Linked DNA regions of Homo sapiens: region 1 is linked to region 2. A link means that fine-mapping ties the variant in region 2 to the expression of a gene that starts in the linked region. Tissue or cell type: whole blood. Region 2 holds a variant in brackets; the other region holds the start of a gene. All regions are shown on one strand. Distances are between the middles of the regions. Region 1 holds the start of VWF (von Willebrand factor). Region 2 has its middle 16 kb from the start of CD9.

The links.
Region 1: VWF starts here. The variant in region 2 is fine-mapped to the expression of VWF in whole blood (INTERVAL, PIP above 0.99).

What each region holds. Positions count from the first base shown.
Region 1 is chr12:6,123,429-6,126,115 of GRCh38, forward strand. It overlaps VWF (von Willebrand factor), which reads right to left and starts at 1,242. Exons shown (of 52, transcript NM_000552.5): 1 at 993-1,242.
Region 2 is chr12:6,182,958-6,185,981 of GRCh38, forward strand. No RefSeq gene overlaps it. Among named protein-coding and RNA genes, the nearest start is that of CD9, 16 kb to the right of the region's middle. RefSeq lists an enhancer at 200-379. The variant A/G (reference allele first, on the strand shown) is at 1,197.

The sequences.
Region 1 (2,687 bases), 60 kb before region 2:
TTTCCACAGACAGCAGTCCCAGGCCCAAGACAGGAGGAAAACGCTGCCTTCCCTCCAGGCCCGCTGGGCCTCACATCCCTGCCTCCTGAAGCAGCTGGGAGCTAACACACACCTCATTCCTTCCTGCCTCTGCATCCAAACTGGCGAGTAGGAACCGTCTTACACTTGTGTGCCCACCACAGCAGCCCAGACATAGAGAATGCTCAGGAACCACCAACTTGACGGTTTGCTTGTTGGCCCCTGACTCTGTACCACAAGTGCCTTCACAAGAGCAAAGGCTGTCTCCCTTGCCTCCAACCCCAGCACCTGGCAAGATGCTTAGCACCCAGGAGATGCCCAGCAAATGTTTGCTGAGTTCATCTGAAAAAATGGACAGGAGTCCAGCGGCCCTGGATGCAGGCAGACTTCCCCACTGTGTGACCCCCAAGAGAGGGACAATTCATCCTGGCTGGCAGAGCGTACCCCAAGTCACTTAGAGCCCCTGCTGTAGCCCCTCTCCTCGGGAAAAGTTGTTAAATGAAGTGCAGAATCTGCTGCCTGAGATTCACTGGGGGTGACTCCCTTCCTACCTAAGGTCCCATCCAGCCAAAGGTGAAATCAAGCCAATCTGTGATACATCTGTGGAAGGAACACTGAGATGTCAGATACTGCCAGGTCTCGGTCTCCAAGCAGGTGTCCCCTCCCAGTCCTAACACGCAGGTACATTCAGCTGCTCCCAGGTTCTCAGAGGTGAGGGCAAACTTCATTCCAACTCATTTGAGTGAAGTACTATCAAACAGTAAAACCCACTGCATGAAGAAAAGCAGCCCCAGGACCCTCAGAGGCAAGTGGAGGAGGGAGTATTAGGATCATCCCTGGCTGAATTGAATTGCCCCTCCAAACAAAGCCCTTCTAGTCCAGCGACAGAGAACTCCAGCTCCCCAGGAGCAGGGATCAGTCAGTCCTGCATCTTCCTCCCACAACTGAGCCAGCTCTCCTTCCAAAGGCCATACCTTCCCCTGCAAATGAGGGCTGCGGCTATCTCCAAGGTCCCTGGGAAACTCAGCTGCTGGACAATGGTGCCGCCCACCCTAGGCCATGCTCTCAGCTGCTGCAAAGGCTCAATCAGGTCTGCTACAGCTCCGGACTGTCTTGCTGTTATGTAGCCCAGGGGCTGTGGAGTCCCCACTGCTGGGGGAGATAAAGCCCAAGCTGTGACATCCACCAACCACCCTCCCTTTCCCACCACAATAGCTGTGAGCTGCCACAACAGGGGATTGGCCTCCTTTTAATTACCAAAAGGAAACAATGAAAGGAAATGGTATTAGAAGTACCTCCAAGCTGATAAAGCTTTGTAGAGTTTGGAGGGAGACCTCCTGGCAGCTGCCTTAATTAACTGCCTTGCCCTCCCCAAACACCCCCTATCCCTACACCCCCACACTTGATCCCTGGTCTTCCTAGAGTGCCCCACCTGTGTGGGATAACCAGGAATGCTGGTTGTTTCAGGGCAAGCTGATACAGGCCAGGGGGAATCACAGTAGAACAACACAGCTTCCTGATCCAGCTTCCAGGGCTGGACTCCAGGGAAGTTGAGAAAAACACCTCAACCTGAGCCAATTTTGCTGCTGTGTTTGGAGGAAGGGGAGTACTAACACTTCCTATGCACCCCAGGTATGAAGGATCCGGTCCTGGCCCTGACAAAAACAGTCCATTTGGATCCTGGCCAGGGTTGAATGGATCGGCTAAAGATGAAGGTCTTGGCCACAAGCCTAAGCCTTTGTAAAATGGTGAAGGTGGGGAGTGATGGTTTGAGTCTAATACTTCTACTGTTGCTACATTCTAATAATTCTAATTCTCAAGGACATTTCCACCCACTTCTGGTACCCTGATCTTACACACACACACACACACACACACACACACACACACACACAATTCTTCTTCCCAGCCTCCCATTCCCAAAAGCCTAATTCTCAACACCATCTGCTAAACTAATTCCTACTAAAATAAGTAACTGATGCAATGGGCAGCGGTGGGGGGAAGATGACTCTCGTGCTGGGATTCCAGGCACTGAGACAAGCACCCTGAGGCATGTCTGGGTATGGAAGACCTCCTCACTGCTTCTCCATGATACCTCCTGCCCTAAGACTTTGAGAAACCACTAGGTTCCAACCTCCTCCCTTCCCACATACCTCGCACTCTGCTACTCCCTTTACCGCCCCAGGAGAGGAAGATGCACACTCCCAAGGAAGAAAAATGGCACCAGAGGCAGAATCAGCATGAGACAGTAGAAAAGGCCATTGGGGGGCCGGGCACGGTGGTTCACGCCTGTAATCCCAGCACTTTGGGAGGCCGAGGTGGGCGGATCACGAGGTCAAGGGATCAAGACCATCCTGGCTAACATAGTGAAACCCCGTCTCTACTAAAAACACAAAAAATTAGCCAGGCGTGGTGGCGGGCGCCTGTAGTCCCAGCTACTCGGGAGGCTGAGGCAGGAGAATGGCGTGAACCCGGGAGGCGGAGCTTGCAGTGAGCTGAGATCGAGCCACTGCACTCCAGCCTGGGTGACAGAGCAAGACTCCGTCTCAAGAAAAAAAAGAAAAGAAAAGAAAAGGCCATCGGGATTTCCACTTCCAGCTCTTATTTAAAAAAACTAAATAACTAATCTGAAAACCCTTTCATTACAAAATATCTTTAAATGCTGTGCT
Region 2 (3,024 bases):
AATTAGCCGGACGTGATGGTGGGCACCTGTAATCCCAGCTACTCAGGAGGCTGAGGCAGGAGAATCGCTTGAAACCGGAAGGCAGAGGTTGCAGTGAGCCGAGATTGCGCCACTGCACTCCAGCCTGGTCAATAAGAGTGAAACTCTGTCTCAAAAACAAACCAACCAACAAACCAAAAACTCTTGTAACCCTGGGGCCACCCAGCCACAAAGAGGCAGGGCTGGGACAGGCCCCTGCAAGTCTCCTCTGGAAGGCCAAAGGGCTGCTACTAGGAAGGGGTGGCAGACTCATCCCATGTGGCTTCAGAGGGCAGGACATGGACAAAGGTTATGGGAAGGGAGGGAAACTTTCCAATAACCAGACTGCACAAGAGTGGAGTGGCCTGCCTCAGGAGGGGTAAGCTCATGCAAAAGCTGGCTGTTGGGGACATTGGGAGGGACTCTGAAGGTCACCACCACTCTGAATCAATGCTGTGTGGGAGGATGCCAGGGTCCACTGGACCCATGACGTGCCTTTAGCGTGGGAAGCAGGGAACCTCAACTTTGGAAAGAGTGAGGGCACAGTGATGTCCAGCCACTCCCAGAAGCCGTCTGTTAATAGAGCAACCCCTCGGGCGGTGTGCAATCCTAATGACCAGCCCCAGGACATTGGAAACAGGGTCCTGCTGACCACAGTCTAGGAGACAGGGCTGCACACAGACGGAACCAAGCACACAAGACGAGAGAGGGTGTGTACCGCAGAAACCAAGGGCTCATTTATGTGCTGCGTTCTCAGTCTGCAAGGAGTCAGAAGAGAGGACAGTGAGGCCAGGAGAACTCAGGGAACACTCCTTGTTGTAATCATCACAGTTATGTAACTCATATTACCAGCTGTTCTTTCGTGAGCATTCTCTATGTGCCAGGCTAAGTGTTTTGTATGCACTGTATGATTTAATCCTAGAACAACACTATGAAGCAGGAGCTCTTAGTATTCCCCTTTTACAGATGAGGAGGCAGGCTCAGAGAGGTGATGTAACTTGCCCAGAATTATATAACTAGTGTGTGGCAGAGCCTGGACTCAAGCCCAGATCTGTTGGACTCCAGACCCCGTGTAGAACCATAAGGAACTGATGCTGCTTCAATTTCTGCACTGATACGGAAATCTCTCCGAGATATCATGCCGTTGTTTTCTATTGTTGCTATAGCATATTATCACA[A/G]GTTTAACACATATTTATTGCACACTTCTGGAGGTCAGCAGTCTGACATGTGGGTCTCACTGGGCTAAAATCTCAGTGTGGGCAGGGCTGTGTTCCCCTCTGGAGGCTGCAGGGGAGAATCCCTTTCCTTGCCTTTCCCAGCTTCTAGAGGCTGCCTGCATTCCTTGGCTCCTGGCCCCTCCTCTGTCTGCAAAGCCACCATTGTCATGTCTCTCTAACCCTTTGTCCCAGTTCCCTCTGACCACAGCCAGGAAAGATTATCTGACTTTAAGGATCCATAGGATTAGATTGAGCCCACTTGGATAATTCAGGATACTCTCCCCATCTCAAAGTCCTTAATCACATCTGCAAAGTTCTTTTTGCCAAGTAAGGTAACATGCACACCTGGCAGGGATTAAGGTGTGGTCACCTTTGTGGGGGCCATTATCCTGCCAGCCATATAAAAAGGAGAGAAAAGAGGCCAGGCGCGGTGGCTCACACCTGTAATCTCAGCACTTTGGAAGGCTGAGGCGGGCGGATCACCTGAGGTCAGGAGTTCAAGACCAGCCTGGCCAACATGGCAAAACCCCATCTCTACTAAAAATACAAAAAAATTGGCTGGGTGTGGTGGCTCACGCCTGTAATCCCAGCACTTTGGGAGGCCAAGGCGGGTGGATCACAAGGTCAGGAGATCGAGACCATCCTGGTTAACACAGTGAAACCCCGTCTCTACTAAAAACAAACAAACAAAACTCTACTAAAAAAAAAAAAAAAAAGAGAGAGAGAGAGAAAAGAGCAAGGTGCCGAATCAGTAGCAAGGTGCTTCTTCTGGTGTTAAAAAATTCTTAAATGGGGAGAATAACAATATATACTAGTATTTGCATAATGAAGGATACATTAAGGAACCAGTATTGGGGAAGAGCTAGCCTGATGGGGACAAGACTGGATGGAGATTTTTGCTGTCGTTATGCAAGTGTTCAAACACACGCAAAAGTAGAGAGAACAGTATAATGAATCCCATATACTCATCGCTCAGCATCAACGATTTTGCATTCTTATTGCATTTTATCTCTCCACTTTTTGGGAAGGGGACTGAACAATTTAAAGCAAATCCCAGACATCATATCATTCTACCCATAAAAACTGCAGCGTGTATCTCTAAGAGATACGGTTTTCTCAGAAACATAACCATGGCCGGGCGCAGTGGCTCATGCCTGTAATCCCAGCACTTTGGGGGGCCGAGGCGGGCGGATCACGAGGTCAGGAGATCGAGACCATCCTGGCTAACACGGTGAAACCCTGTCTCTACTAAAAATACAAAAAAATTAGCTGGGCGTAGTGGCGGGCGCCTGTAGTCCCAGCTACTGGGGAGGCTGAGGCAGGAGAATGGCGTGAACCCGGGAGGCGGAGCTTGCAGTGTGCCGAGATCGCGCCACTGCACTCCAGCCTGGGCGACAGAGCGAGACTCCGTCTCAGAGAGAAAAAAAAACAAAAACAAAAAACACATAACCACAATGCCATCATCACACGTAAGAAAGTTAACAATATTTCCTTAACATCATCTAGTCCTTAGTCCATATTTAAATTTCCCTAACTGCCTACAAAACCTTTTTTTTAATAACTGGTCTGTCTGCATCAGGATTCAAGAATCAGGCCCACACGTTGCCCTTGGTGGACAGAACTCCTAAATCTCTGTTACAGATTAACAGTTTCCAGGAGAAACACGTTTCCCTCTCTTGTATCTTTATTTTTCAGTTATATAAACAAATGATCTATTTTTAAATGAAATTTAAAATAAAAATCTAATGCTTCATGGAGATAAGGCTCCCAAGGGGTCCCAAAAAGTGGT